5 separate regions of the Homo sapiens genome follow, and all the other regions are reported to be linked to region 2. Evidence: microRNA targets listed by miRTarBase, many of them from high-throughput screens and not tested one by one. Region 2 holds a microRNA gene; each other region holds the end of a gene's coding sequence. Distances are from middle to middle.
The links. Region 2 holds the annotated microRNA hsa-miR-182-3p (UGGUUCUAGACUUGCCAACUA, at 3,324-3,344, shown strand). A microRNA usually pairs through its seed, bases 2 to 8, with sites in the 3' UTR of a target mRNA and lowers its output. Matches are read on the target gene's strand: a 7mer-m8 pairs with bases 2 to 8, a 7mer-A1 pairs with bases 2 to 7 and ends in A, and an 8mer does both.

Region 1: the mRNA of PGM2L1 is a reported target of hsa-miR-182-3p. Seed matches in the 3' UTR shown: 7mer-A1 at 1,352-1,358.
Region 3: the mRNA of SCIN is a reported target of hsa-miR-182-3p. Seed matches in the 3' UTR shown: 7mer-m8 at 3,775-3,781 and 7mer-m8 at 2,542-2,548.
Region 4: miRTarBase lists ZC4H2 as a target of hsa-miR-182-3p. Seed matches in the 3' UTR shown: 7mer-A1 at 4,895-4,901.
Region 5: the mRNA of HPS4 is a reported target of hsa-miR-182-3p. Seed matches in the 3' UTR shown: 7mer-m8 at 4,450-4,456 and 7mer-m8 at 3,917-3,923.

What each region holds. Positions count from the first base shown.
Region 1 is chr11:74,331,946-74,338,344 of GRCh38, forward strand. PGM2L1 (phosphoglucomutase 2 like 1) reads right to left here. Exons shown (of 14, transcript NM_173582.6): 14 at 1-4,809. The coding sequence ends at 4,707. The region is part of intron 2 of LOC112268078 (a long non-coding RNA gene); the gene reads left to right. Among named protein-coding and RNA genes, the nearest start is that of P4HA3, 24 kb to the left of the region's middle.
Region 2 is chr7:129,767,315-129,773,749 of GRCh38, reverse strand. MIR182 (microRNA 182) reads left to right here and starts at 3,258; the gene lies at 3,258-3,367. It overlaps LOC105375501 (a long non-coding RNA gene), which reads left to right and starts at 4,545. Exons shown (of 3, transcript XR_927963.4): 1 at 4,545-5,062; 2 at 5,792-5,863. RefSeq lists enhancers at 1-517, 2,244-3,107.
Region 3 is chr7:12,651,389-12,657,823 of GRCh38, reverse strand. SCIN (scinderin) reads right to left here. Exons shown (of 16, transcript NM_001112706.3): 15 at 5,923-5,983; 16 at 1-5,236. The coding sequence ends at 5,109. Among named protein-coding and RNA genes, the nearest start is that of ARL4A, 33 kb to the left of the region's middle.
Region 4 is chrX:64,912,038-64,918,472 of GRCh38, forward strand. It overlaps ZC4H2 (zinc finger C4H2-type containing), which reads right to left. Exons shown (of 5, transcript NM_018684.4): 5 at 3,770-5,859. The coding sequence ends at 5,746. Among named protein-coding and RNA genes, the nearest start is that of ZC4H2, 61 kb to the right of the region's middle.
Region 5 is chr22:26,448,420-26,454,854 of GRCh38, forward strand. It overlaps HPS4 (HPS4 biogenesis of lysosomal organelles complex 3 subunit 2), which reads right to left. Exons shown (of 14, transcript NM_022081.6): 14 at 2,463-4,985. The coding sequence ends at 4,814. Among named protein-coding and RNA genes, the nearest start is that of ASPHD2, 22 kb to the left of the region's middle.

The sequences.
Region 1 (6,399 bases), not on the chromosome of region 2:
CTTTTATAAGTACATAGTCTTGAATAAACAAAGAGGAAAGATGGTCTAATAAATATATAGTATGGTGAATACTTTAAGGTAACCAGTAGTCAACACTAACTTTGTTTCCAACTAGAATTAAATTCATGCTGTGCAAGGAGTCAGACAATGAGCAATTCTCATCTTACTATTTATACCTCTATGGCTTAGGGTAAGATGCTCTGAGGGACAAATGTGAATAAGATTTCCTTAGATCTTGTGCTTTGGCTCCCCAAGTACAAGGAAACCTGAAATAGAATGTTATGTCAATTGCCCATTCATTTTGGTTAGTACGACTCTTTCCTCATCAGTTTCTAGAACAATCTCAGATGACAAGTGAATTGTAAAAGGCCGTAATAAATTAACATATAGCAGTATGCAGACAGATCAAAACAGGTTATGAAATAGATTTAAAATTACTTCCTACAATAAGTCTTAAATATAATGACAACATTAACAAAATAACCAAAGGTCCATAGGCAAATGTAGTTTATGACTAAGCTTAAAGCATTCTGAATGAATACAGTTGAGATTTCTTATCAGTGAGGTAACAGGGCAATAGTCCTTCACAGTAACAAAATGTGCAAGGGTGCCTAGGAAAAGTGGGAGGTAGAGAGAAAAAGGCATAAAATTAAATGTATCCAAGTGAAGTTTGGATTTTTCAAGCATCACAAATATCAATGGAAAATGTGGAAAAAAGTACTGATAGCAGCAGCTCATAGAACAACTTATCCATTAAACTACAGCTAATATCCCTGTTGCATCAATTCCAGAAGCAACTTGCTTAAGAAATGGGAGGTCTATTTCCTATATAAAGACATTCCAAAGTATCCAATCTCTTAGAACCTCTCCATCTGCTAACGTATCTACATCAAAATAACAACATATATATTCAAAACGAAAACCTCAAATAACCTAAGCCACTATACATTCTTCAAGATGAACAAAATTTTGTTCAAGTCTCACTTAATTTGCCAGGTTAAATTAAAAATAACAGTGAAGCAGGAAAATTATTCATTGCACTTATGCATCAGTTACTCAAAACACACAAAAATTGTTTTGTGAGCTAAATTCTTCTAGATATGGAGTGAAACCCAAATGTTACTTTTAGTGCCCTTTATGACATTTTTGTTCTAACCTGAGTTTTTAAAAAAAATGTGCTGGAAAGAAGGACCCTTAAAAAGTCATCTGTATATCTCTTAATTTTTAAAATTTTTATTCCCTTAAAAATAAAAAAAAGATTTTGAATAGAAGATATTATGAAGATTTCTCAAGAAGTTCCTAAATCTTAAACTTTCCATGCTGTCTTTAAAAAAAAGATCCTTATTCCCTCTGGTTCTGTCTTCACTAGAGATGGAGAACACTATGGCATAGTATTTCTTACTTTGAACCCTTCAATAAAAGACTCAATAAAGCTTTATTAGCAAACTTAGCAAACTATCTCAACAGCTTTCTCCTCTCCAGAGTCAAACAATCTTTATTCCTTGAACTTTTTCTCAGAAGTCTTATTTTCTAATCTACATTTTCTTCCTTTTTATTTCTGCTCTACCTCTTCCTGAGTTCTCACATGATTCTGATACAACATCCTAGCAGGAACTGAATCCGTAAAAGGGATACTTTTTCTCACCTCCTAAACCTTGGCCTCATTTTAGTGATCACAATAAAGGAAAATGGTAGGTGCATACTCATCATAACAACAAATAAACACAAGTAAACAGGTGGGACACAGTTTATTCCCTACTGTTATGGTGTTACATTTGCCCTTCACGAGAAGCATTTCCCGTGTCTCTTTATATTGTTTGCTTATTTCTACTGTTTATTTCCAATGTATGCTTTGATCTTGCCCTACTAATTCTCTCCTTTTCTCCAAAGCTTTAGAAAATTCCAGTTTTGACTTTCATGCTCAATGAGAATGCAATCATTTTCACAATATTGTTCAAAAAGAAAAAGATAAACATTGTAGTGCCCGAGGCTGAGACCTCCTAGCCAGCACTTCTGTCTCTCCTGACCAGCTTGGGCTATCACTGAATTTATCCTGTTAGGCAAATGTGCACCTACTACATCAAGTTCATGTTAAGTATCATGCTCAGACAGACTCATGACAGGCTAGAATAAAATAATTCCCTCAATCGATACACTTCAGGAACATTTGTAAAATTTTGTTAACTTGAGAGAAGAACACTTCAATAACTTTTCACCTTAAGATGACTTAAATGTTGCATTATATTAAAGCACTCAAATAAAACTGTTTTCTTCATAATAGAATGACAGTCATGACATGGCTTTAGTAACTATGAATGAGCCGTTGATTCATTTTAGCTTCATTTTTGTTTATCAGTCACTGAAACACAGAACTAAACCAAATATACCTGTTTTTCATATATACAACATTATACCACTTTGCAGAATATATGCCATTTCCTAAATTACAATCTACATTCTTAAAAGCATATAAAACAAAAGATGTTTTACACATTTTAAAAATAAAACAAAAATTCTACACATATCTTCTCCAGTGCAAAGCCTTTGAAAACAAACTCATTGAGAAAAATGGTGCTCTACATTTAGCTAGCTGTCTATTATCTACAGTCATACAGTCATATAAGATCCAACAATAAGAAAGTAAGGAAGGAACAAATTAACAATAGTGGCAATACAATAGTTGGACAATTAGGTTTGGATTATATGAGCTCAACCAAATGTTAGCTGACAGCTGCAACAAACGAAACCATGATTTAAGGAACATTCTAATCAGTTCAAACTTTATATTATTATTTTATATGAAATAAATTCTCTAATTACAGTGCTATCTCCCATAAGCAATTTGTTTAGGTCTTGTTATTGTTATCTCCTAACTATACCCCATATGTATTCTGAGAACTATGTAGGACAAGATACATTTTAAGAAGATTAAACACAGCATTTCTTTTTCTCTCTCTCTCTCTTTTTTTTTTTTTTTTTGAGATAAGGTCTCACTCTGTCATCCAGGCTTCAGTGCGGCAGTGTGATCATAGTTCTGTAACTTAAACTCCTGGCCTCAAGCAATCCTCCTGCCTCAGCCTCCCAAAGCGCTGGTATTACAGATGTGAGCCACCAAGCCCAGCCTAAACAGCATTTCTCTATTAAACCTTTTCAGAAGACTGCATGATTAGCCAAAAGTGACTTTTTTTTTTTTTGAGATGGAGTCTCCCTCTGTTGCCCAGGCTGGAGTGTAGTGGCGTGATTTCGGCTCACTGCAATCTCAGCCTCCTAGGTTCAAGCAATTCTCCTGCCTCAGCCTCCCGAGTAGCTGGGACTACAGGTGCCCACCACCACACCCGGCTAATTTTTGTATTTTTAGTAGAGACAGGGTTTCACCATATTGGCCAGGCTAGTCTCAAACTCCTGACATTGTGATCCACCTGCCTCAGCCTCCCAAAGTGCTGGGATTACAGGCGTGAGCCACTGCGCCCAGCCCAAAAGTGACTTTTTGTAAAAAATTATTTTCTACACTAAAAGAAGATAAATAATAGTCATGCAATCAGAAATTCTACAGAAGTCAGCAAGATGTTAGAATAAACTGGACCTCTGTTTTAAAACATGTAGTTTTAGTATTTCATAATACTTAAAATTTGGATGTTTTATTCTTAGTAAAATTAACATTACTTCATAAAATAAAAGAATAAATCTACTTACAAAAATGTAATTCAAAAGTTAGACTGTCAAATAAATTCAGAGCTCCTTTCTCAGTTCAGATTTTTTTCTGTAATAAAAGGTTTGATAAATGACACAATTCTAATATGAAGATCCTTAACTACATTAAGCTTGCTTTTATTAAGATCTTTATTTATATTCCTAAGATTTTAAAATCAGCAAACTCACTTGATATAGAGGAAGCACCTACAGATTTTGGAAGATTTTCCTTAGCTATCTGCAAATTGACTGATTAAATTATGGTAAATGCAGGAACACTGTTTTTTCTGTTCACACCAGACCCTGAGAAGGCACTGAGAAATTTGATAAGAACAAAGCCAATAGGAGTGTTGCCACTATTGTTTTATGTTCAGTAAACATCAGAATTTTAAATACATACAGTAAATTTATACTGCACCAAGGGCACCTGAAACAGACATGCCAAAACCACACACTGTAACATCTGTTCTAAACTACAGAAATGCTAAATATCCTATTTCAAATACTCTAATTTGTAAATTAATACCTGTGATGTCACAATGACACTTTTTCATAACAATCAAGGAAAGTACCATTTTCTTGCCAATTTTATGGACTAATTTCCTTAACTAACCCTACAATTATATAACATTTACCTGTCTTTTTTTTTTTCTTTTACCATGCTATACACAATTACGAGATACAGAACTAGGCTTAATCACACTATAATAAGAAAACTCACTTTTGAATTGTGATGTTTCTGTTAACGGAAGGACAATACGTTACTATAATACTTTTAGTGTAATAACTTTTGTTTGAATTATGAAAAAATTTGAATCATTTCCCTCTAGACCATTTCATTTCAAACTTATACTTTGTTTAGTCTAGCCAGTTGACCAAAAAGAAAGAAAATAAAAGGAAAAAGATACTCGGCCAGATGAGATAGAGAGAGAATGCTAACACAAGGTTCAATGTATGCAGTTCTCGGTTGCTCTGTTCCATATGCCCACACAGTGTCATGACATATTGGTGTACCCCTAAACAGAACGCCAGATCAGTCCATTCTTACTAGGCTGAAGAAAATTCTCTATCAGAGCATCAATGAGTTTCTTCAGTTCTTCCTCCAGTAAAGCAGTGTCACTGAGGAAAAGATGAAGAGTTTTGGAATTATTTATTTTCATAGGCTTAAAATTTATTTAAATTAGTGTGATTTTTTAAGAGGTCCTGATGGAGTCATTAAACAATTGGTAAACAAAAGAGAAATTCACTTGGTTAAAACAAAACAAGACCAAAAAAAAAAATTACACACAAAGAAAACACTGCTATCACAAACTGAAGGTGAACTGCATTAATAGGAGTTCCTTGGCACATGATAAACAGAGGAGTGATGGTGTATCTAAAGAATTCTCCTGGGTCAGGAGAATGAGGTTCTAATGGCTTTGAACACAAATACCAGGTGTTAGGAGAAAATGGCTTCCTGAAATACTTTGAAAAATATTCAGTACAGATGTTATGGAATGATATATCTTTCAGGTAGCAGAAGGAGGTGTGACTAAAATAACGTGATGTTTAAAAAAATAAATGTGCACTTAAAAGAAGGCCCTTGAAAGTCATCACTGAGGTGCTGCCGTTGCCCAGAACATTTCGAGGCAAGCCTCTTTTAAACTGCCTTTACAGTCATTTTAAAAGCTACACAACAAATCAGTTCTTATTACTTTAATAATCTTCCTTCATTTTCAACCAGATGTAGCATTACCCAATTTGGTTTACTTTAGATTCTACTTTGAATGACTTCGGGGGCTCTTTATCCCCCCCAAAGGAAATGAAATCTATCCTTAAATGCAAAGATTTGGGGAAATACAAAATAGTATAGCTTGGTTGGACTCTGAAAGCAATTCTAAAAAATCTCCTTCCCAAATATATATTGAGCAATTACAATATTATAGGAGACAGTACTTTTAATACATTTAAGTAGCCTTTGAATATGTTTATGAAATTCACTTAGTCACAATTCATCCTCTTAAAAGGAAATGAACTGAACAGATTATGTCAAGTCATATTAGACATAGAAAATGGATATTTGGCAATAAACAAATTATTTGATGATAATTTCCTTATGTTAATCACATAATACTTAAAGCTCAGAGAATCTTTCCAAGAATAGAAATTCAATACAATTTTAAAATTCAATTCCCAAATGATGTAGCTGCTTTAAAAAATGGTCTGGCAGTTCCTCAAAAGGTTAAACACAGAGCTACCATATGACCCAGCAGTTCACTCCTAGGTATATACCTAAGAGAAATGAAAACATACATTCACACAAAAACCTGTATGTAAATGTTCATAACAGTATTCAAAACAGCCAAAGAGTGCAAATAATCTGAATGTCCATCAAATGATCAATGGATTAAAAAGCATGGCATAGCCATGCAATGGAATATTGTTGGGCCATAAAAAACAAAACTTTAAAAAAAGGAATAAATTCATGCTACAACTGAATCATGGTGGAACCTAGAAACCATTATACTAAGTAAAAGACGGCAGTCACAAAGGCCCACATATTGTATGATTCCATTTATATGAAATGCCCAGAAAAGAAGCAAATCTATAGAGAAAGACAGTAGATTGGGGTTGCTGAGGGCCGTAAAGGAGGGAAATGGGAAGTGATTTCTCATGGCTACGGGCTTTTGGGGGTGATGAAAATGTTCTAAAATTGATTACAGTGATGGA
Region 2 (6,435 bases):
CTAGTCTGTCAAAGCTGGGGAGAGCCTGGCCAGCCAGGCTGGACCCATGTGAAATCTGGTGGTCAGCAATCAAGCAGGAGACCAGTGGCCGACTTGGGACCAGCTGGGAGCTATCATGCCCCAGGTCACTGGGCCAGCCCCTGATGGGGCTGCTTCTCCCCAGGGAGCCTCAGGCAAGGGTTGGTGGACTTAGCCCAGATCAGTGGGAGTCATTTTAGGTGTCTGAGCCAGGGAGTGCCCGGGTGGGGGATGTGTGTGGTTGAAGCTGGCAGCTGGAGGATGACGGGTCCAGTTGACTGCACAGCAGGAACATGGTGACCAGTGCTGCCTGCCTGGGTGCCCTGGGGACTGCCTTGGGTGGGTTGGGCCTTTTTTTTCTTGTCAGTTAGCTATCACCAAACCGCGAGGAGCCCCCAATAAATTCCCTCTGGGGTGTGGTGCCCGTGTTTCTCTACAGAAGCTCTCCAAGCCCCTGCAGAAAAAAGGAGGGGCTTGTTTATTTCAGGATAGAAGGGGACTTCTGCCCTGGTGAGGTGTCCCTGTAGCTAGGTCTCTCTTCTGATGGCCCCAGCTCTCCCTCTGCCCCTCGGAACCTGGCTGGCCTGTGCCGCACCCTGTCTCTGTGCTCCAGTCCTCCGCCCCGGGTGCTTCCTTAGGGCGTCCTGCTGCAGGTCCCATGGGATAGGAAAGAAGGGATTTCCCGGCCTGAGTGAGAATGAGCCCTGGAGGTGGGGTGGGCACAGAGACCCAGCAAGGGGGGGTGGAAGGCCCCTGGCAGTGACCGGTTCTAGAGCTTTTCCCTGGAGCCTCTGGAGTGTCTGGCCAGGGTTCTGCTCCTTCCTGCCTAGCGGGGAAGGCCGGATGACAGAAGCTGCCCTCAGCCCCTGGGTGGTCTGCAGCTGGGCTCCACCTCCTCACACCTGCCCAGGTGGGCGCCTTTGCTGAGCCCCGAGTGCAGGCACTGGTGTGGGGGCGTGCCTCCACCAGGCTTCAGGCCCGGCTGCTCTGGGGCCCTGCTCCAGCGCTCCAGGGGAGGACCTCAGGCCAAAGCTAGTTTCTAGATCTCCTAATTTACCTAGTTCCGGGCCAGACCTGGGTGGTGAGTTCACCCACAACAGTGACTGTCCCAGAGAGTGGGGGCCACCACAGCTGGCCCTCCTCCCTAAAGACACAATTTCCTACCACCCAGGCTGGGGGCACTTAGGATAGGAGAGGGCCCCTCTTCACCTCCCCACCCTGCAGAACAGGTCCTGGATCCTCCCTTGTGTGGCTTCCAGAAGGTCTGTGAGATGGGCAAAAGGTTCTGCCCATGATCTGTCCAATGGTGTCCAGTGTCAGGCAGGAACGCTGTCCCACTGCAGCGAAGGCCTTTCTTGCTGGAGCGGGAGGGTCACTGAGAAGCACTTTTTGCTTTGTTTTTCTGTTTGTCAAAAGCAGCGGCTCCCAGATGCCCGGGTTTAGGGCGTCCCCCATGTCGGGCACCTTGCTTGGCCTGTCTGGGTGCGTGGAGCGGCAGGAGGGGCAGCTCCCTGGAGGGCTGTATGAGTGGGTTTTCCAGACTCCCCGCCTCCCCCACCACTCCATTTGCTTATTCATTCCAGGCCATTATCCCAGCCTCTGCCCAGCCTCAGGCGGGTCGAAATGCGATCCGGCACCATTGATCGCCTGCAGCCCCAGGCTGCCGATGGAGCCCGGCTGGTGCGGCCACAGCTGGGTGGGGAGGAGGACAGGACCCCCCACATACACACTGGAGGAGGGTGGGAGTGGCCTCCTCAGCAAGTCCCAGGCTTGGGGGCTCCATGGGACCAAGAGAGCCCAGTGCTGCTGATGTCCCAAAGCAGGCCCGCCCACCCTCGGAGAGGCTTCCAGAGTCGTGCCTCTGCTCAGAGGCCAAACCTTCCCCACCAAGCCTCTCCTTTCGGGCAGAGGTGTCCTCCCCAGCGCCCAAGCCCAGGCTGCCGGTCCGGTCTGGGTGCCACCGAGGTCCTGGACTTGGCCCTGGGGATGGCCTGGATCTGTTTGCATCTTAAGCCATCATCCCATCTCACTCCACCCTAAAGGGCAGGCAGGATGGGAGGGGTGGTGGCGGTGGCGGCGGCAGCGGTGTCATTTTGGGGGCCCTGCCAAGTCAGCTGCTCCCCCAGCCGGGGCATGTTCGGAAAATGAGCCTGCTCATGGTGGGCCCATACTGCCCAGGAGGCTTGAGGGCAAAGAGTCCCTTCCAGGCTGCAGGGGAGGCATGGGGATGCAGGGTTGGGGGCAGGCAGCCTGCACCCTTGCTAAAGGCTTGAGATGCCTTCAGGACACTTCAACACCCCTTGGGAAAGGACCTGGCCTCATCAGGGGAAGTGGGAACACGGAAGTGTGCTGCCCTTGGGTAAGTGACTGGCGGTCTGGGGAAATGCCACTCCGAGAATCAGATCGCAGCCAGCCCTCAAAGGGTCTGGGTGTGTGCAGGGCTGCTGGGTGTGTGCAGTGGGTTCTGTGGTCAGGAGAGTGCCGTCTGGATGGGAGATATTTGGTTGGTTTTAGCTTGGCCCATTCCTGCCACTGACTGATGGCCCCAGAGGCTGCCTGTTCCCGTTCCTGGGTAGAAGGTCCCAGCGCCATTGTTTGTCCACTGCTTTTAGGGAAGAGGCCTTGGCAAGTGGAATGCTCTTCCTCCCTTGGACTTGATAGGGAGGAGGAATGTTTTGTGTAGCAACTTCCCTCTCTCCCTTTGGGGTGGGCAGCCTGTGAGCTTTAGGCTCTAGGGAATGGCTTGGGAGCATCTCTCTGGATTAAATGGAGCAGTGACGTGGGCTTAGTAAATAGCAAAACCCAGCCCACATTAGCCATCTCTTCCCCAGCGCCCAGGGGCAGGGCTCTCTGGCCTGGCTTGTGCTGGTTCCCAGAGTCCCTGCTGTCAGGTGCTGGGAGTGGAGGTGCCCTCGGGTTCCCTTGGGAGTGGTGACCACAGCTCAGGGCCTGGGTTGGATCCTGGTGGCTGCCCTAGGGATGGTGTCTGCTCCATGCCTGCCCACAGGAACTGCAGGTTACAGATATGAGGGGAAGGGAGGAGAGGAGGGGGCTGAGGAGGGACCGGGACCAGCAGGAAGGGGGACTGTGGGGTTGGGCCTCCACACCAGGGCGACCCTGCAGGAAGGACCTTGTCGCAGTTGCGGGGATGGGCGCCTCTGTCCTGGCCCTGCCTGGACCATCCTAACTGTCTCTGTCTCTTCCTCAGCACAGACCGAGGCCTCCCCAGCTCCTGGGGGGAGCTGCTTGCCTCCCCCCGTTTTTGGCAATGGTAGAACTCACACTGGTGAGGTAACAGGATCCGGTGGTTCTAGACTTGCCAACTATGGGGCGAGGACTCAGCCGGCACCCTGTGCACAGCCAGCGAGGGAAGGGCCGGCCATGCTGGACCTGCTGTTCTCCGCGAGGAAGGAGGGGACTCAGGTCCCGGACTGCTGGGTAGTGGCAGAGGGCAGGTGCAGCTGGAAGTGACACTCTGTGTTTCCCTGCATCCCCCTGAGGTCACAGGTCCTCAAGTCAGCTGGGAAGCCGTTCTCTGGCCCTCAGGGGTGCTGCCAAGAGGAGCTGGGGTCCAGCTCTGCTCCAGGCTGTGGCCCTGGAGTCTGAATCGAGGAGTGAGGGAACTGGGGGATGTTTGGTTTCAGGGCTTTGGCCTGGCTCCTCTGGGTGGTGAACCTTCTCACCCTCTCCCCTGAAAGGCCCTGTTCAGGGTGGGCTCTAGGGCCCCGAGGGAGGGTCTCCTAACCTTCCACAGGTCACTAAGAGTGGTTCCTTCCTGGGCTGCTGGCTGGGAGGATGAGGGCAGGGAGGGCACGCCGTGCATCACGGACATCCAGTGATCCTGCTGAGGCCATGGAGGGCCAGATGGGATAAGCCTCCAGAGATGTGCAGGAGGAGAGTGTACAAGTCACTTGTGTAAATGCGGGACTGGCCCCCTGGGGTGCAGGTGGCCCATGGGCTGGACCTCTATGCCTCCAGCATTCCACTTCATGGATTTGTTCCTCCTGACGCCTCAGAACCTGAGACAAAGCCTCCACTCACCTTCCCAGAGCTTGTGTTTGCAGTGGGAGCTCCCCTGAGCCGGAGCCGGGCCACAGGGTCAGAGTGAGTGGCACTTCCCAGAGAGTTGGGCTTGGTGGGCAGACCTGCTGGGGAAGCCCGGCCCTGGAGTCTCCTGGCCTGCAGATGGCTCAGGAGCCAGAGTGGGAGCTGCGCGTGTGGTTGAGAGGGTGTGGGTGCAGGTGTAAGTGTGTGTGTGAGTGTGGCCTAGCCCGCAGTGAACGGTGCAAATGCAAATGTGAAGGCCTATCCCCTGCTCCCCAGCCCTCGGCCTGCCAGCCTTCCTTCTCTGGTGCTCCCCATCCCCCAAACCCCTTCTATCAGCCCCCATCAGCCCTCCTTTCTCCTCACCTGCCCTCGGAGGGTCATGTGTGGTTCCATGACCCACCAACCCCTGTGGCTGGGCAGGGCGGGGCAGACATCTATCTGGTGGCTCCAGGCTCAACCGGCTCCGTGCAGCTCACTGCGCTCTTTTGGGGAGACACAGGCCGAGTAGGGAAGGTCTGAGCCGGCAGCTCTTGAGACAGAAAGAGAAGGGAACTGTTCTCCCGCAGGCTGCACTATGCATGTTACATGCCGTGAGCACAAGCAGACGCTGCGTAAACAGGCTGGCTCTGCAGGGCATGAAGAAGGCTGCTCTGAGCTAGGGCCACACGGCACCTGCTGGGACACAGGGAGGGGTGGGGAGTCCTGGAAGATGAGTGACCCTCAGGGAGAGGAGGAGACTCCTGTTGGAGAGCACACAGATTTCCTGGGGTCTATGCCGGGCTGGAAGGCTGGCCATCTTAAGGCTGCATTTGTTCCCGAACCTAAGGACCATGGGAGCCACGCAGCCAGAGGGGGTGTGATCAGATGTGTGTTCTGGTTGGATGGCTCTTGTGGCTGTGTGCAGAATGAAAGGAGGAGTTGGACTTGGCCATTAAGTCCACGATGGCAGAGGAAGCAGGTGCCATGGGAGAAGGACCTTGGATACATGCCCAGGAAGGTGAGTAGGGGTCTGCCAGAGACCAGGGCCTGAAACGGCTCTGCTCTCTGTTCTTTTTTTTTTTTTTTTTTGAGACTTGAGTCTTGCTCTGTCGCCCAGGCTGGAGTGCAGTGGCGCCATCTCGGCTCACTGCAAACCCCGCCTCCCGGGTTCACGCCATTGTCCTGCTTCAGCCTCCTGAGTAGCTGGGACTACAGGCGCCCACCACCACGCCTGGCTAATTTTTTGTATTTTTAGTAGAGACGGGGGTTTCACCGTGTTAGCCAGGATGGTCTCGATCTCCTGACCTCGTGATCTGCCCGCCTTGGTCTCCCAAAGTGCTGGGATTACAGGCATGAGCCACTGCGCCCGGCCTGCTCTCTGTTCTTAAGCTTGTAAATAACAAAACCAGGAGATGTGGGCTGAACGGTTTAGTGTAGTGATCAACAGCAGCATAATCGCGGTGCCCAAGTACTGCTAAGTGCTAAGCATGGAGGTAAGGTCAGTGATTAGAATGCGTTTTATAGTCCAAGCTGGCGTGGAGGAGCCTTGCATCATCTTTGTCCCCCGACCCACATAGCTTCATTTGGCTGGTACAGCTGCTGGTGCTCCATGCTGGCAGGAATAGAATTATTATGGGGCCTCAGCAGGGTGGGCGCTGAAGAAGAAATTGGGGGCTTTGGGCAGATTGAGTCACAGTAAAGCTATTGATCTTTGAGCACAGACTGTGCTACATTTTCATGATTTCAGTGAATCCTCACAACCACGGGCAGCGCACAGATGAGCAAACAGGATCAGGACAATGAAGTGTTTATAGCCAAGGTGAGTGGTGGAGCAGGGAACCCGGGCCCTGGCAACTGCTCCCAGAGGCTGCAGGCCCCGTGCCACACAGCCAGGGGAGGGGGCTGCACTGTGGCCAGTGGACCCTGACCTTCTCCCTGGTGCCCCTTTAGCCCCTGCAGAGACTTCTGCCTTTCCCTAGGATACATGGTTGCTGGGGGTGGCAGAGCTAGAACCAGGGTGGTGGGAAGGCAGGACTGATCAGTGGGATGGTCCCTACGGAATGGAATGTCCCAGCTGCCGTCACCACTGCCACCTCCCCATCTCTGTCCTGCCCTGCTCCACTGACCGTCCTCTGAGCTAATCTGACCACAGTATCCCCACCCTCTCCCTTGGGATAAGCCCAAGCGCCTTACCTGGTTTATGGGGCCTGGTATGACCCAGCCTTGCCATGCAAACTACCCTCCTGCTCCCCCCACCTGTCTTCCTGCTCGCCAGGAAGAAATTGTTTCGCCTTCCTCATGTGGCCTGCCCTCCCCGCCAGCTCTTCCTCCCTTCGAAGCTGGTAAGGCAGCATGTCTCAAATGCCCTGCACACACCTTCCCAGCCTGCCA
Region 3 (6,435 bases), 120 Mb from region 2:
TGAAATGCATGCAAATGCCATAGTCAATTATAAACTAGAAATAACATCTTAATAAGGGACTGATGTTGTCAAATAATACTTGGCTGCTTTTCACATCAATATGAAAAAGAGAAAAACAACACAGGCTGCAAAGGCCCAAGGGAAAATAATACCTCTGATTTGTCTTCCACTGATTGCATTATACAAGGAAATTGCTAAACAATATCTTTGTTTTTTTGCCAATGCAAAAAAAAAAAAAAAAAAAAAAAAAATATATATATATATATATATATATATATATATATACACACACATATATAAAACTTAAAAATTCGTGTCCAGATGCGGTGGCTCATGCCTGTAATCCCAGCATATTGGGAGGCCAAGGCAGGTGGATTTCCTGAGTCTAGGAGTTCAAGACCAGCCTGGACAACATGGCAAAACCCCATCTCTACAAAGAATTAGCTGGGCGTGGTGGCACGCACCTAGAGTCCCAGCTCCTGGGGAGACTGAGGTGGGAGGATTGCTTGAACCCAGGAGGCAGAGATTGCAGTGAGCAGAGATCGCTACTGTACTCCAGCCTGGGCAACAGAGTGAGAACCTATCTCAAAAAAAAAAAAAAAAAAAAAAAAATCATATTATATCCTTTAGTACACACATGTATGCATTTTTGTTGGGTACACACCATGGAGTGGGATTTCTGGATTATAGGATATGTGTATGTTCATTTTAGTAGAAAATACAAAAACTGTTCAAACCCATTGTATCAATTTATACTTCCCAAGTAGTGGATGTAAGCTCCAGTTTCACTATATCCTCTCCTGTATTTTTACTTGGCATTACCAAGTAAAATATTTGATTTTAGTCATTTCCTAATGAATATTAAAGTTGAGCCACTTTTTACAGGTTTTTTTTTTCTTCCCCCGAGACGGAGACTCTCATCGTCACGCAGGCTGGAGTACAGTGGCGCGTACTTTCGCTCCAACCTCCGCCTCCCGGGTTCAAGCGATTCTCCTGCCTCAGCCTCCCGAGTAGCTAGGATTACAGGCGCCCGCCACTACGCCCAGCTAATTTTTTGTATTTTTAGTAGAGACGGGGTTTCACTATGTTGGTCAGGCTGGTCTCGGACTCCTGGCCTCGTGATCCAACCGCCTTGGCCTTTCAAAGTGCTGGGATTACAGGCGTCAGCCACTGCGCCCGGCCTTTTTACAGGTTTAATGGCTACTTTTCTAACAGTTTTTGTGAAGTGCATTTATAAGCCAGTTTTTTCTCTGAGTTGTCCGTTTTATCCAAGAGCAAGAACACGGAATGAATGATAATTCTACATATGCGGGGCATTTGTAGGCTTTTAAATTCAAGTTCAGTTCAAATGAATTAGGTTTAAAATAAATGTTTAAAATAAATAAATTAGGTTTAAAATAAATTAGGTTTAAAATAAATAAATTAGGTTTAAAATAAATTAGGTTTAAAAGAAAATAAAATAAGTGTTTTCTTTCAGTTCAAAGTAATTATCTACCTACTTTTTCAGCAGAAGGGCTTGTGTCACTACACAACAGTATAAATTCACAGTATATAGCTTTGGAGAATGATTGGGACAAGAATTGCTTGATGACTGAATAATGAGTTAAGTGGACTGATGTTTTATGTTTATAGTGTGTTCCTAATCATTACTGGAGGCCAAAACATTGTTCAAAATACAATGTGAAGGCCATTCTCTTTACCAGAACTGCTAGAAATAAGTGGTGGGAAATATTATTTGATGAGCTATCTAAGACGAGAAGAGAACACTGAGGATTGTGCTTGAGAAGATACAGAGGATCTAAATGGCTCACCAAGGCTCTCCGGCACCAAGAGGTAAATGCAGGACCTCTGTTTGACTGAGTTGAGTATGAATTTCTTGAATCAGAGAGAAAAGATGAGGCTGACCTCTACTAACAGTAGGCTTCCTGGGTCTTTCTGTTCTTTCTTTCTTCTGATTAAATATTAGATAAATATGCCAATATATTGGTTTGAAGAGACACAAGCATATTAACTTGCTAGGGAACACCTGTATCTCTTTCTCCACATGTACCTAGTCTAATGTGTTTGGTTTTAGATTAGTACATACGTTTGGCAAATATATAATATTTTTTGTGTATGTTTACAAAAGTAATACTGTGCTATGGATCAAAAAGTTTTGACCAGTTTATACATCTATTAACAGTGTATGGGTGAACCTGTAACCCTACATTTTGATGACCACTAACATTTTAATATTTTAACATTTGCTAATCTGGTAGATAGATAAAAGTATGATTATTTTATTGTGAATTTATTTAATTAAGAGTGTCTTAGAACATCTTTTCATTATTTACTGGTCATTTTCATTCTTTTCTGTGAACTTCTATTCATGTCTTTTGGCCATTTTTCCATTGGGTTGTTGACTCATTGATTTGTAAGAGTTTCTTTTCAGTGAAAGGAATTCCTTAAGTAGCTATAACATTAGCTGTATGTATTACATATTAATTTCTAAGTTACTCATCTGTTTTGGGTACTAGATACAGTTGATTTATCATATCTGTGGGTTCTACATCTGCGGATCAAAACTATTTGGGGAAAAACAATAAAATAATACAACAATACAAAAGTAATGCAAATTAAAAAACCAATATAGTATAACAACTGTTTACACAGCGTTTACACTGTATTAGGTATTATAAGTAACGCAGAGATGACTTAGAGTATACAGGAGAATGGTATAGGTTTTATGCAAATACTATGCCGTTTTATATAAGGGACTTGAGCATTCAAGGATGTTGGTATCCATGGGGTTCCTCGAGCCAATCTCCCGCGGATACTGAAGAAAAACCGTATATCATATTTTCATGTAGTGAATGTATCATATTTTTAATTTTATGCTTCATGAGTACATGCATCTTTGCCGTGATGCATTCAGAAATTATGCTTATGTTCTTCTTTTTCCATCCTTTGGGCAGGTTAAAACCCTGCAACAGAACTGAATAATCATTTTAGGCTCTCAGCAACTTTTATTCTGCCTTATCATCTTGCTGCTGATCTCATTTTTGATATTGCCATTCAATAAATATTAACTGAGACCCTACTATATGCCTCGGCCTGTGCTATAAATTGGAGATGAGAAAAACCACTGGCTAAACTAGAGAAACATCGTAAAATACAGTGTACCCTAAGCCACTCACCTTGACCTTTACTAATTTTGTGAAAAAGTACTACTTATTAAATCATTTTATTCTCATCATCCTTCAAAAAATATTCAGCTTGACCCAGAAGATATTTATAAATATTTTTAAAAATTATTTTTCACTCAATTACATTCCTAGAAATGTTAAATGTCTACTTACATCATTTTTGTTGCATGCAGGACTAGCACTATATTTATTAGTACAGGTTACACTGCCATAGCAAGAAAACGCCTTTTTAGGTAAATTTTCCTTTAGGCAAATGTCAGAATTGGGTCACATGGTCATAATCAAGTTGAAGTAAGGCTGAGAAATCTCATGCCTGCCTGGACGGCCACATTATCTGCTAAAATATCAGTGAATTCTATGATTAAAAGAAAATAGAGATATTCAATACTAAGGGACAGCAGCTTCTACCATAGTCCATTTGTGTGGTAAGTCAGTTGTCTCTTTAGTTTTTTCATTCCACATGAAGGATGAGAAAAATTCATGTGGGATGAATTGTTGGACCCTACATTGTTCATCCTTTAGGGCCCAACAATTCTGAGCTTTTGGCTAAGAATCTAGAATCTCTACATGAGGCAAAGTTCTTTCCATGGGTTCTAACGTAGCTTCTTCTTTTTCAATGACCTATATAGATTAGTAGATAATGCAACTGCCACTCAGTGTATCAGTATATACTGATATACAATGGTATATTGGAAATAAAATAGAATGAAATAATAGAATAGAATAGAATGGAATGGAATAGAATCAGGGTAACTGCGATAAAAATTATTACTTAGAAAAGGGAAGAATGGAAAACATAAAAACTCACTTTTCTGTAGCTTTGCTGAAATCTTGCAGGACAAAAATTGCTAAGATTCTCTAGTGGCTACCTGCCAGTAAGTAACTTGATATCGTTAACTTACTTGAACTTGGCTCTGCTCCCTGGGATACTCCCCTGTGCATTGTCTTTTTGATCTCCTGTGATATTAAACATGTACTGTACATGTACATGTATCTAAGTGGATAACAATACAATTCATTTTGTCATGAAAGAGCTGTGTTTTCAAAGGCTTTTAATAAGGTTAAAAAAAAGATAAAATTCCTCTTAGAAAATAACACTTAGCAGTTAATGACATCAAAGTCATATTGACTAAAGAAGGAAAATAGCAACCAATTGTTAAAGCCACCTTAACATAAACCTTATTGCAAGTATACACATCTTTTGAACACAATCTATAGAAAAGAGAATAACTTCCAAGGCATTACAACTTTTTCTCTGGCATGTTAAAAAACAACTCTGACTAATGGCTAATGCATTATAAAATTTCCTATCTGACAAATCTTTCTAGATTATGCATAGTATTTTACTTTTGAAAGGTCATAAAAAAGATATAAATCAGTTTCCATAAGAGCTAATATTGGCCCATAACGAAAGTTTCCTTCAGGTTATTTTAATGTATTAACGTAAGAAAACTCCAGGTGAAGAAGAATTTCAAGCCAAAACTAAGCATTAAAAAATAGGCGTTTGGTTGAGGTTAATTTTTTTTTTTTTTTTTTTTGAGACAGAGTCTCTGTTGCCCAGGCTGGAGTGTGGTGGCGCAATCCTGGCTCACTGCAACCTCAGCCTCCTGGGTTCAAGCAATTTTCCTGTCTCAGCCTTCCAAGTAGCAGGGACTACAGGCGTGCACCACCACGCGCAGCTAATTTTTTTGTATTTTTAGTAGAGGCGAGGTTTCGCCATGTTGGCCAGGCTGGTCTCGAAATCCTGACCCCAGTGATCCGCCTACCTCATCCTCTCAAAGTGCTGGGATTACAGGTGTGAGCCACCGCGCCCAGCCTTAATTTTCAAAAGACAAATAAGCAAAAAGCTTTTCCCGTTCCTCTCCCAAAACAGCAATGAGATAACTGCCTTGTAATGTTTGTTTGCTTTTTACAAATACCAATTTACCACTTGCTGGAATCCCAGCCCAGGAACCAGCCTGTGAATGTGGGTGGCTCATGGCCCTGTTTTATGATGACAATTGGTGTCCTCTTGTCTCTTCCAGAAGGGTCTGTCTCAAGGTACATTTTGGCTAAAAAAAGTTGTAAAGACATATAAATTCAGTTAGTTTGGGTTAAACTAAAGTAACTGCAGATTGAAAATTCTTCGAATAAAAGTAATGAATTAAATTTCCAGAAGAACAAATAAATATTGGCTACATTGAAAATGAAAATTCTTCGAATACAATTCTTCAAATCAAAGTAATAAATTTCCATTGACCAGGTAGACAAATACAATTTCTTTTTGATTTCTCTCGTCTGCCATGAAAGGCAACATGTGAATCTCATTAATGCCTGAAAGAATTCCAAGTTTTATGGAATTGTCCTTGTGGCATAATTATTGTTATACGTTTCAGTAAAAGGAAAATTGTGCCAGAAAGAACAGCATAGTCAAAAGGAAGTTTAAAAAATCTGGCTTATCACAGTCATGGAGGTTTTACTCTTATAATAAAACAAGGGTTGAAATTAATTTAAGTTTTCAGATTAAATTGATATAATTCTATTCTAGATTAGATAACAAAACATATTGTTTTCTTGTGCCCATTTGGAAATTCTCCAGTTCAAAAAATCCCATTACTCTTTAGTTTTGAGGAGGAATGCTAAGCTACTTCTTGATTTTGAAATGTATTTTTGTAAGACATGGTGGCAAAGAGCAAGCCAGACACTCGGTCATAATGGTGCCCGGTTACTGCTATAATGGTCCATCGATTGAGCTTACCAGACTTCAGAGATTCTTTTTTCTCAACTTCATTAGCATCTTTGCCAATCCAAATAAATATCTGAAAAATGAAACAATAACAATATGTATGATTTCTGGGATGTTGACTCAGTGCTAGGCCCTATGTAAAGTGCTTCACACACACATTGCTCATTCAATCTTCACAATATCCGCAGAAGTTAGGGACGTGGAGGTGGTGGCCCAGAGAGGTACCATCACTTTCCCAGTGTTCACACTCATCAGGAGACACCTAAATCTACATCCAGCCTGTTTCACTTCAGATTTCACACTTGGATATTTTATGTTTACATGGTACTTTCTAGTTTGTAAAGTGATCTTTCACAAAAAAAAACAGATTGTCTGGGTGGACTTTTTTTTTTCATCCACCCCCTAGGGTGTGACAGCAGTCGAAGGAAACCAAAATATTTCACCTCCGAATACACTTCTTTGACATATTTCGAGATGGCTGTTCAGAGGACTTGCAAACAGAAATAGCCCTGCAAATCTGCCTTT
Region 4 (6,435 bases), not on the chromosome of region 2:
ACAAGGGATATGAAGAACCTCTTCAAGGAGTACTACAAACCACTGCTAAAGGAAATAAGAGAAGACACAAACAAATGGAAAAACATTCCATGCTCATGGATAGGAAGAATCAATATTGTGAAAATGGCCATACTGTCCAAAGTAATTCATAGATTCAATGCTATCCCCATCAAGCTAACATTAACTTAGTTCACAGAATTAGAAAAAAACTACTTTAAATTTTGTATGGAACCAAAAAAGAGCCTGCATAGCCAAGACAATCCCAAAGAAAAAGAACAAAGCTGGAGGCATCATGCTACCTGACTTCAAACTATACTACAAGGCTACAGTAATCAAAGCAGCATGGTACTGTTACTAAAACAGATATATAGACCAATGCAACAGAACAGAGGCCTCAGAAATAGCACCACACATCTACAACAATCTGATCTTTCAGAAACCTGATAAAAAGAAGTAATGGGGAATTTAATAATTGTTGTTGGAAAAACTGGCTAGCCATATGTAGAAAGCTGAAACTGGATCCCTTCCTTACACCTTATACAAAAATTAACCCAAGATGGATTAAAGACTTAAATGGAAGACCTAAAACCATAAAAACCATAGAAGAAAACCTAGGCATACCATTCAGGACATAAGCATGGACAAAGACTGCATGACTAAAAGACCAAAAGCAATGGCAAAAAAAAAAAAAAAAAAAAAACAAAATAAAATTGACAAATGGGATCTAATTAAACTAAGGAGCTTTGGCACAGCAAAATAAACTATCATCAGAGTAAACAGTCAACCTACAGAATGGGAGAATATTTTTGCAATCTATCCATCTCACAAAGGGCTAATATCCAGAATTTACAAAGAAGTTAAATAAATTTACAAGAAAAAAACAACCCCATTAAAAAGTGGGCAAAGGATATGAACAGACATTTCTCAAAAGAAGACATTTATGCAGTCAACAAACATATGAAGAAGAGCTCATCATCACTGGTCATTAGAGAAATGCAAATCAAAACCACAATGAGATGCTATCTCGTGCCAGTTAGAATGGTGATCATTAACAAAATCAGGAAACAACAGATGCTGGAGAGGATGTGGAGAGACAGGAATGCTTTTACCCTGTTGGTGGGAGTGTAAATTAGTTCAACCACTGTGGAAGACAGTGTAGCGATTCCTCAAGGATCTACAACTAGAAATACCTTTTGACCCAGCAATCCCATGACTGGGTATATACCCAAAGGATTATAAATTATTCTACTATAAAGACACACTCACACATATGTTTATTGCAATACTCTTCACAATAGCAAGACTTTGAACCAACCCAAATGCCCATCAATGATAGACTGGATAAAGAAAATGTGGCATATATACACCATGGAATACTCTGCAGCCATAAAAAAGGATGAGTTCATGTCCTTTGCAGGGACACAGATGAAGCTGGAAACCATCATTCTCAGCAAACTAACGGAAGAACAGAAAACCAAACACCACTTGTTCTCACTCATAAGTGGGAGCTGAACAATGAGAACACATGGACACAGAGAGGAAAACATCACAAACCAGGGCCTGTCAGGGGGTGGGGGGCTAGGGGAGCTATAGCATTAGGAGAAATACCTAATGTAGATCATGGGTTGATGGGTCCAGCAAGCCACCATGGCATGTGTATTCCTATGTAACAAACCTGCATGTTCTGCACATGTGCCCCAGAACTTAAAGTATATATATATAAATAAATAAAGGCAGCCAACTCTGGCACAAAACATGCATACAATTAATCCCTGCTGTGTGCAGCATATAGAGAATGCTACAGCCTAAGTGATTCCCAGATTGGAAGGCCTAGGTTCTAGTTATGGCTTTGCTCATAACTTGCTATGTAATCTTTATTGGGCAAGTTGGTTCCCTTATCCTCATCTGTAAAATGTGTATGTTAATAATACATTCTTTACCAACAGAACAAGGTGAGCATGAAATGGAAATGTTGAAGAAAGTGCTTTCAATGTAAAGCAAATATAAAGGATACCTTGTCTTACTTCTGTTACTCTTCTTACTCACCCTCCTCTTCCTTCTTCTCTCTCTCTCTCCCAAGCCCCTTGTCTTCTTTTTCACTATATTTTTGATCCTTTTCTTCCTTTCTTTATTCTCCATTAACCAGTCTTGGGTTCACCTGCAGCACTGCACTTAGGCAAAGGAAACACAGATTTTCGAGGTTGACAGACTTGAGTCTGACCTGGCTTTGCCCCTTCCTACTTGTTTGTTAAGCAACAACTTTACCTTTTTTGAGCCACAGTTATATCACCTGTAAAAAGGGATGCATATTACATTGGTACCAAAGTAAATGTGGTGTCTACCATTGAAAGTAGTGGCAAAAACCACAACTTTTGCATCAATCTAATAACACCTTCCTTAAAATACTGTTGTCAGAAAATGTGGTAGATTGTCTGTAAATATGGCTGGCAACAATTCCTCCCATCTCTGACATGCATGCAGCTCCTCCCCTCAAGACATGGAGTATATATATTTCCCTTACCCTTTAAACCTGAGCTGGCCCTGTGACTCACTTTGACCAATAGAGTGCAGAGGCAGTATTGCTATGTGACTTCTGGTTTTATGCCACAAAAGGCCTTGCTGTTTATGTGTGTTATATGTGTCCATTTTTACAGATGATAAAACTGAGGCTCAAAAAGGTAAAGTAATTGCCCAGCAAGTAGGAAGGGGCAAAGCCAGCTCAGACTCAAGTCTGTCTACCTCAAAAGTCTGTGTTTCTTTTGCCTAAGTGCAGTGGAGCAGGTGAACCCAAGACTTGCTCAAGGGAGAATAAAGAATTAAGAGAAGGAACAAAAATATAATGAAAAAAATAATACAAGGGGGTTAGGAGAGACACAGAAGAAGGAAGAGAAGGGTAAGTCAGTCTGCTTTGGTTTTCACTCTCTTGGATGCCACTTGCCAGGTAAAAAAGTCTGATTATTGAAGTGAAATGCCAAATGGAGAAAGGCCCTGGAGGATAAAAGACTACAAAGGCTGGAGTTGGTATTAAGACATCCAGCCCACTCCTGTTCCAGCCACCTCAGGTGAGGTGCCAGATGAGAGTGCAGCCATCTTGGATCTTACAGCCTTAGCCAAGCTGTCTGAGGCAAAACCACATAGAACAGAAATTAGCCATTCCCAGCAAGTTCTGCTCAAACTGCAGAGTCATGAGCAAATAAATGATGGTTGTTTTAAGCCATTAAGTGTTTGTGTGGTTTGTTTCACGGCAATAGATAAATGAACCAGAAAGACTACATGAGATAGTAGTGACCCACCAAGTGGCTGGCAGGTGTAGGTGCTCAACACATGATTACTCTCTTCCCCTTCAAAAGCATCCCTAGGAAATGGCTTTCCTGGCTGTTGGTGCTCAGAGTTCAAAACCTGTTACCATCACTACAACATAATTGACAGACCTGACCTCCATTGTGCCAAGGATGCAGAGCTATGGCCATGCCTCCTGTACTTTACAGGGACTCACTAAGGCCTATACAGGTTAAGGTGTACTCCAAGTTGCACAGATGACTGTCCTCCCTTTGCCCAGAGTGAGCCTGAGCCACTTCAAAAGCACGTCTGTAGCTATACAAAACCTGGGGTGATATCAGGGAAGATGAGTAGTATAATTTTTGACTAGTGTTCCAATCTACCTAAACCCAGAGGCACAGTGAATAAAAGGATGTTAATACTTATGAGTGCTTACTATGTGCCTCACATTGTTCACAATCCCATGAAATAAGTGCTAATATTTTCCCCATTTTCCAGATGAGGACACTGAGGCACAGAGAGGTTTTATTTAGCTGTTGAATTCCCTGACAAGCACAGAGACAGATTAGTGTACAGGATATTATTTAGAGAGCCCTTGGCCTTTATATCCCTGAATCAGTCATTTGACACCCAGTTCTTGATTTCAGTTCCAAAGTTATTTCAACCACTCTCATCATCAAGCCATTCTGAAAGGGAGAAAGGTTTTCTTAAAAATGATCATGGAGAAGAAGTAGAAAAAAATGAGCTCTGGAGTTGGACAAAGCTGGCTCCAAATCCTGCAATTTCCTCTTACTAGCTGTTTAACTCTGAAAAAGCTTTTAAGTTTTTGGAGGTTCAGTATCCCTTTTTTTTTAAAATGGTGATAAGAATACTTAGCTTGTAAGGTATTTTGGAAGTCAAATACAATCATTTATATTAAGCAACTTGCATAGGTACCTGGCACAGAGTAGGTGCTAAATAAATGGAAATTATTGTGATAATTAGGTAAATTATTGTCCTTGGTGCCTGGCTTTCTCATTTGTAAGGTGGAATGAATAAGAGCAAACAAGAGCTACCCAGAAAGGTAAATGACATTACATCTTTTGTATTATCCAATACACAGTAGATACTCAGAATTTACTCCAATGAATGCATGTTAAAAGGATTTGTACAGACACAACACTCTTACTTTCAAAGAGCAGAGGAACATTTTATATAGTGAACACATACACACTGTGGCAATGTAAAACTACTTAAGGAAGGAAAAATATCCCCCTCCCCAGCCAGGTACTGAGACCTGGGGCTAAAATTTTTTGTCAGTCAGCCCCCATCCCCATCCCTTATCTTCGAGTGACCTTACCAGGAAACCTGGCTTTGGTGGAAAGGAGAGCTGTGGGGCTTGGGGAGCCTGATGCCTTTTCTTTTGGGAGGAAAGGCCACCTGCACAATCCACAGGACAGGAGTGGCCAGCAGCTATCCTGAGCTGAGGCTCCAGAAGAGTTCAGATCCAAGAGAGCAAGGGATGAATGGAAGGAAAGTCCCACCCACCTTCATGTGTAAAGTGATTGGCATTTACTCAAATCTAAATCTACTCCTCTCCTCCCTGCAATATACCATTGAGCATGTGCCAGAGTAATGGTTCTGAACAAAAGCCAACACAGATGTCAGCCTGGGGGCACTCTCAGCCTAAGGAAGCCCCTACAGCCGAGCCCTCAGCCCTAATGACTTAGGCAGTAGGTTAGGCAGGAGATGTAGAGTTGGTCTGGCTCACTGATTTCACTGTGGAAATCTTCTACTAGAATTTGCAAAGACTAGATATTGGGGAAAGGTTCATTGATCTTAAGATCCCAAGACACACAGCCTAGTACCTAAGAATTTTAGTATATGTGGGAGACAGAAGTGGAGAAAGCTAAAGAATTACAGCCATGCCTCCCAAATGATTATGAAAAGGAGGGCTTGTCCAAGCTACCTCTGGGCCTTAAGGATGAGATGAGGGTAGGAGTAGGGGGATACATGCACCCAGCCTGTTGGAGAATCCAACATGAAGACTATTGTCCCTTGAGAACCTAAGGCAAAAGTACAAGGAGGGGAAATACTGGGTCCTTTACCTGAAACAAGATATGGGCCTCCCCTGCCCCTCAGACCCTACAGCTCCTTAGGCTCCAGGCCTCAGGCACAAGAGATAGAGAATCATATCTGAGCCTTTTGCCCTTCCCTTAGCTCCAAACAAGGGCAGGGGTTGAAATGTGAGTGGGAGAGAAGGGATCATCAGACACACTGTTTAGCACCTGAACCACATCTCTTCCTAAACCAGAAATCCCAAGAGCAGAAAGAAATAGGAGCAAAGTGAGAGAGGGGTTGTGCTTCCATCACATTAAATAGGAGACTTCGTGGGGTTGGGCAAGGGTTGTTTCACATCAGGACATCAATGACTCTGGTCAAGGTGAGGGGTTATAATTAGCAAAGCTTCATGTGCTCTCCCTTTCTTTATTCATCCTGCTTCCGTTTCGGCTTTTTGGGGTTCCGGGACCGACTCTTGGCCTTGCAAAGAGGGCATATAGGTGCATTCCGGTGAATTTGCTGGTGACATGACAAGCAGGCCTGGTGAGGGACACAGGAAAAAGAAAGTTAGTAGTCAGATTCTTCCAGGCAACAACTTAGACTTCTGATTCCCCAGGGGCCCAGAAAGCAAAGTGATTTCCCATCAGAAGAGAGCAATAATCAGTGAGTAGACTCAAGTATTCTTGGATGCCATGGAAGATGGGAAGGAAGGACATAACCCAGTTCAGAGAATGGTGTTGAGAAAAAGTATACAAAACTAGAAAGTAAGGCAAAATGAGAACTACACATCTTTTCGTCATTATAATGAAGCATTGTCTAACAGGCCCACTTAAGGACTATTTAATTTTCTAGAACAGGGGTCAACAAACATTTTCTGTAAAGGCCAGGACAGCAAATACTTTAGACTTTTTACATCATATAAACTTGCTGCAACTACTCAATTCTGTTTTGCATGAAAGAAGTGATAGACAATAGCTTGCATGCATGTTGTTTGCAATAGCTTGCAAACACAGACATGCATGTGGGCCAATAAAACTTTAACGAAAACAGGGAACAGATTAGATTTGACCTGTAGGCTGTAATTTGATGACCCCTGCTCTAGAAGAATGTCTCTTT
Region 5 (6,435 bases), not on the chromosome of region 2:
CAGCCACACAAGCCAGTCCAGCCTGGGTGGGGAGGAAGGATGCACAAGGTGTCTTTGAACAGCACACTCGGTAGAGGACTTGTCTCCCTCTCCTCCCCATGGGTTTGGCAGCCTGGGCCTCAAGCCCTTTCCTCAGGGTGCTTGGCCCAGCTGACAGCGAGGCAGGGCAGGGGAGAAGGGTTGCAACTTTTCGGCTTATACCTCGGCATGCACAGGCAATCATAAAACACCTCCCAGCTCTTGACAGGATTCCAAAGCACTCTCTGGGTTTTATTCTCAGGGGAAGTACAGCTAATTTCAGGTTTGGACATTTAAATACTGGATCAACAGAGAAGGTGTCCTATTTTCACCTTGAAGCCCTTAGAATCTTCACTGTAAGCTTCTCAAACTCAACAAATATGTTGAAGAAAGATCTAGAGTATGTTTTATTTCTAAGCTAGGATGCTGAGAGTGGGTCTGACACCTGCCCTCCCCTGTCTCCTCACAGAGAGCCGGGTGGCAGTCAGAATCAAGAAGCAAAGCAGGAGACAAGTGCTTTCCCACACCCACTGCCCTTTTCCCAGGAGCAGCGGTGGGTTCAGGGGTTGGGAGAGGAGTGTGTGTGTCGGGAGCACAGGCTGAGAGTATTAGTGTGGGTTTCCTGCTCACTCCGTCCGCCAGCTCCTTCAGGGCAGGAATCTATCTCCTTGGCTGCCTTCTCCACTGGGGCTGTCCCTCCCCGCCCCAAACCTCATCAGTGCCCAGGCTCGTCTGCCCATTATCTGGCCTCCTCTCTGCTTCAGCCATTCCACTTCCCACCTGGACAACCATAGCCTCCTGGTGGTTTCCACTGTTGCCCAGCTTATCCCCTACTCAGGAGCTAGTGACCTTCCTCATGAGAACCAGCTCCAGTCACTCCCCTGCATTTTTTTTTTTTTTTTTTTTTTTTGAGACAGAGTCTCACTCTGTCACCCAGGCTGGAGTGCAATGAATCTCAGCTCGGCTCACTGCAACCTCCGCCTCCTGGGTTTAAGCAATTCTCCGGCTTCGGCCTCCCGAGTAGCTGGGATTACAGGCATGCGCCACCCCACCTGGTTAATTTTTGTATTTTTAGTAGAGACAGGGTTTCATCACGTTGGCCAGGCTGGTCTTGAACTCCTGAGCTCAAGTGATCCACCCGCCTCGGCCTCCCAAAGTGCTGGGATTATACAGGCGTCACACCGCGCCCATCCCACTCCCCTGCTTAAAGGCTCCCCTGTGCCCCGCGCCATGGCAACCTCATGTGGGGCCCCAGCTCTTCTCACGCCCTCCGTGCTCTGTGGCTCGGCGCTACTGAGAGAGAGGGAACTGGGCATCACAAGGAGAAAGCAAGTTGGCAGGAGGATGGATTTGTTTCCTCTGGCTGCTGTAACAAATGAGCATATACCCAGAGGCTTACAACACAAACCCATGCTCTCACGGTTCTGGAGGCCGAAGTCTGAAATCAGTTTCACGGGACCGAATTCAGTACGTTGACAGTCACAGTCCCTCCGCACACTCTAGGGCAGAATCCACTTCTTGCCTTTTCTGGCACCTGGTGGCTGCTGGCATTCCTTGACTGGCGGCCACATCACTCCAGTCTTTGCCATCTTCACGTGGCCTTCTCCACGTGAGTAACCTCCCCCTGCCCCTCTCCTAAAAGCACATTTGTGAGGGCATTTAGGGACCACGGGATAAGCCAGGATCATCTCTTCGTCTCAAGATCCTTCACTCAACCACATCTGCAAACATCCGATCCAACAAGGCAACATTCACAGGTTCTGGGGATTGGGACCTGATCTTTGGGGGCCACCATTCAGCTCACTGCACACACAGGGAAGTGGCCTGTGGCAGGGAGGCTCACACCAGAGAAAGGTCTGCTGCTACTCACCCACCCCGAGCAGGGCGGGGTGTTAAGAACGCAGTAACTGGGCGGCATGGGAAGTACATCTTAGCCACATTGGAAAAGACCACCAAATATGCAAGACAGACACCATGGAGGGCGACTTCAACAAAGCCCCTGGGCTCCACTTGCTACCACCCTCTGTCGGTTGAAGTGACAACGGCCCAGAAGTCTAGATGCTTCCCTCCAGGGGAGGAGACAGTTTGATCAGGCTCAAACATCCCCTCTAGGGGTCCTTTCCCAGTAGGAATCTGATTGCCACTTGATATGGTTTGGCTGTGTTCCCACCCAAATCTCATTTTGTAGTTCTCATAGTCCCCACATGTCGTGGGAGGGACCTGGTGGGAGGTAATTGAATTATGGGTGTGGTTACTTCCATGCTGTTCTTGTGACAGTTCTCGTGAGATCTGATGGTTGTATAAGGGGCTTTTCCCCCCTTTCACTCTGCACTTCTCTTTGCTGCCACCATGTGAAGAAGGATGTGTTTGGTTCCCCTTCTGCCATGATCATAAGTTTCCCAAGGTCTCTCCAGCCCTGCAGAACTGTGAGTCAGTTAAACCTCTTTCCTTTATAAAGTACCCAGTCTCGGGTATGTCTTTATTAGAACCGTGAGAACGGACTAACACACCACTATTAATCACTCATGCGACCTTTATCCTTACAGTTCACAGGTGGCAGATGGCTGGCACAGAGGAAGCCAAAACAGAGGCTTTTCTGCCCTGAAGAGTCACTAGAATCTGTGGTCCTGGATCACTGACAGTGGCACTCGGTGTCAACTAGGAGTCCAGGGTGGGCAGGCTGTCCTGCACACTGCCTTCCCTTGGGAAACATGGCCATAAGAGGTTGTGGTGCCCATTCCAGCAAGAACATGCTGCTTGGCTGTCCGTCGCTTGGCCCGTACTCTGGGGGCGCTAATTTTGAGGGGATGGGCCTGGGGCTGTGGGATTAACCGTGTCCTGAGTGACCCCCTGAAACCTCTGAAATATTAAAAAACGGGAAAACAGCGGGTTAAGTGTTTCTTCTCTGCAGCCTCTGGGCCACAGTTACCAAGCTTTAGAGATGACGGCTGCAGCTGCCAGTGCCCTGGGGCTCTGAGCAGAACCTCCACTGCAGAAACTAAGCAGGATCAAAGGAGGAAAGAAAGGGGCACACCTGCAAAGTGAAGTTTCAGGACTTTACTTTTTCTGAGTTAATCCAGGTGCATGAGACTTTTCCATATACACGGATAGGCTTTGTACGGTTCCATTTTGGGTCAGTGGAAGAATTTTCACAACACAAATGACATTATAAAGTTGTCTTCGCTGGCCTGGTACTGGGGACCACTGGTCAAAGACAACGTGAGACATTGCGGGGACTTCCTGGAGCTGCAGCAACCACAGCAGAGAACTTGTAATCAATTTTTTCTGGGAGAACATAGCAGAGGAGTAAGACAACATTTATCCTAGCTTCGGATAGGATCCTCTTCCATCTAGGCAGATGGGATCCAAGAGACAGCAGAGATCCTGGAGAGAGGTGATAGAAGAGGGAGACACAGGCTTGGTGTATTGGATCAGCTGCAGCTGGTGCTCCCTGGAGCAGCAGGCTGCAGCCTGGCAGCCCTACAAACAGACGGTCCTTACCCAGCCACACTGAACCCAGGGAAGGAAAAGAGGGATGCGCCCACGTTACGCGCGCGCGCGCGCGCGCACACACACACACACACACACACACACACACACACACACTGTCTTAACCCTTACCTTTGTCACAAAAAAATGCTGCCATTTAATTACTCAGAACTCCAGCATTTTTTGGCTATTTTATTTCTAGCCCTTGGAAGCTTGTTTCAAGAAAAAGACACCATATCATAAACATCAGATATCAGTTCACTGACATGAAATTATTAACAATACAACTCTCAAATGGAATCTCAAGTACTTCCAGTAAACATTCAGTTAAGATTTTGACAAATATTTTCATCCTGCAGTCTGTCTCATACTGTCAAAAAAATGTCTGACTATAACGTAATAGAACTGAGGTTCTAAGTACCACACAAGCCCAGGAACACACAGCTGAGTGTCGCTCCCTTTCACGCAGCCACCACTGAAAAGCACAGTGCTTTTACCCCCAGACATCTTGTAAACTCCTATTTAGGGACACTCGCTCGAGAGGAACCAGCTGCACGGCCCACTTGTAGTCAAAGGCAGCGCAGGTTGGTCCTGTTGTCACTGAATTCTCAGGGCTCAGCCCCCAGAGCTTTTATAAAGGGATCTCTAAAGCCCAAACTCCCTTCCATATTATTAAGGCTTGCCCCCATTGTGGGTCCAAAGAAGACGCCCCTAGATTTGAGTAGAGTTCCAACAGAATTCAACCAAGTGGTCTCCGTGTGCTGCCGCTTCCCTGCAGGAACGATCCGGACCTCCCAGCAAGAGCGCACTGGAGAAACCTACCTGCGGCGTGGGAGTGGAGTCGGCCTGCTCACAGATCCGGCACCTCGCTGTGCAGTCACACCGCCTACCACCACCTGGTGTGGGGGTTGAACACACACACTCTGGGCTAGTGGACGATCAGGTTCTAGAAAAAATGCCAACTTGGAAGCTTGTGGCACCAATTCAAGCTGGGATGGAACAGCAGGAGATATGAAATACCTCAGGCTCAGTATGGCAGAGAGGGAGCCAAGCCCGTCCCGGCCCCAACACTACCGATTAAATACAGTTCTTTATCAAGTGCTCTGGGTCTGCCGACCTGAAGAACTAACCCCTGCCCCCAAAACACATCCCAATCTGCAAAAGGAATAACAAAAACTCAAATATCATTTGGTTCCTAAAAAAGGGAATGTTTTCAAGAAAAATAAAATAGAGGGGCCTTTTCAATTATAAAAGGCAGAGCTTCCTTTGCTGGTTTTCTCCTTCCCAGTCACCTCCTGGGTGCAGTTCAGAGCAAGTTCACCCCGTGCTTCAGCAGCTTCTGCTTTGCTTTGCCGGAGAGGCTGAAGGCGCCATCCTGAGGGTTTGGGAAGCCGGAGCTCCGTGCTGCAGGTGCCAGCTGCTGGAAATATGTCTCCTGGATGGGGTTGCAACAGGCGTACACAGCCGTGGAGGCATTTCTGTTGGAGGAAGAAAGAAGGCAACGGTCCAATGCTGCTGGTGCTAATCTCAGACCACACAGAGACCTCAGTAAGGTTCTTGTCACAGAGGACCCAGGACACCCAATGTGGCATGTGCAGCTGTCATGGCACGGAATTCTATTTCTTCAGCTGAGTTTCAGGCTTCAGTGCCAATACCATCTTTCCTTCCTTTCAGCTCACTAGATGCTGGAAGAGTCCGTGGCGGGACCATCCACAGTGGCAGCAGCCACAGATCCTGGAGTTATAAGTATTGCATAAAGGAACTGTGGAGTGCTGGCTTTTTTGACATACTGGCAGCTATGCAATGTGCTCTGCATACAGTCTCTGCTTTGCCCCTCACATAAGCTCTGCAGTGGTGGTATGGTCCCATTTCACAGACAAGGACCCTGAGGCTCAGAGTGAGTAGCTGGGGCTGCCCTGCCTCTATGACGAGGCAATGGCAGTGTCCGAGAAAGGAGTCTAGTCTGCTCTCCACACTGGGGGTGGCTGGATAGACTGAGAGGGAGTGAAGGACAGGAGTGGGATGTGACACGAAGTGACAGGAAGCCTGTGGACACAGAGAGGGAGGGATGAGGGCACTACACAGAGGCGGAGCCACCTGGGAGGAGCCAACTCCAGGCCAAGGTAAACAAACCCCCCTGGTTTCTGGATCCTGCCTCTCCAACTATTATGGGCCTCAGTTTCCCCCAAATCTAGTGAGAAAGGGTGGAGTCAGGGACTGCTAAGGCTCCCCTCACTCAATTCTCTCCTTCCCTGTAAGGGAGAAAAATCCCACCCTATTCCAAGCTTCAGTGTCTCCTGCACCCACTGGCCCAGCAAGACAATCTCTTCTCACAGCCCTGTGGGAGGGCTCCGAGGCCAGATGGTTATGAGCATGGATCTGGAGTCACACACACTCAGGTGCTAATCCCAGCCCTATTACTTCCTAGTGTGTGTCCTGGGCTGCTATTCAACATTTCTGAGTCCCAGCTTTTTCATCTGTACAGTGTTTGTTGCAACAGTATGTGTCCTCATTGGTGTTTTTGTTTTGTTTTGTTTTAAAGAATGAGATTAAGTGAGTGCTTAACACATTGTGAGTGGTTAAGAAATGGTAGCTGTTCATATGTAGAAAGCTGAAACTGGATCCCTTCCTTACACCTTACACAAAAATTAATTCAAGATGGATTAAAGACTTACATGTTAGACCTAAAACCATAAAAACCCTAGAAGAAAACCTAGGCAATACCATTCAGGACATAGGCATGGCCAAGGACTTCACATCTAAAACACCAAAAGCAATGGCAACAAAAGCCAAAATTGACAAATGGGATCTAATTAAACTAAAGAGCTTCTGCACAGCAAAAGAAACTACCATCAGAGTGAACAGGCAACCTACAGAACGGGAGAAAATTTTCGCAACCTACTCATCTGACAAAGGGCTAATATCCAG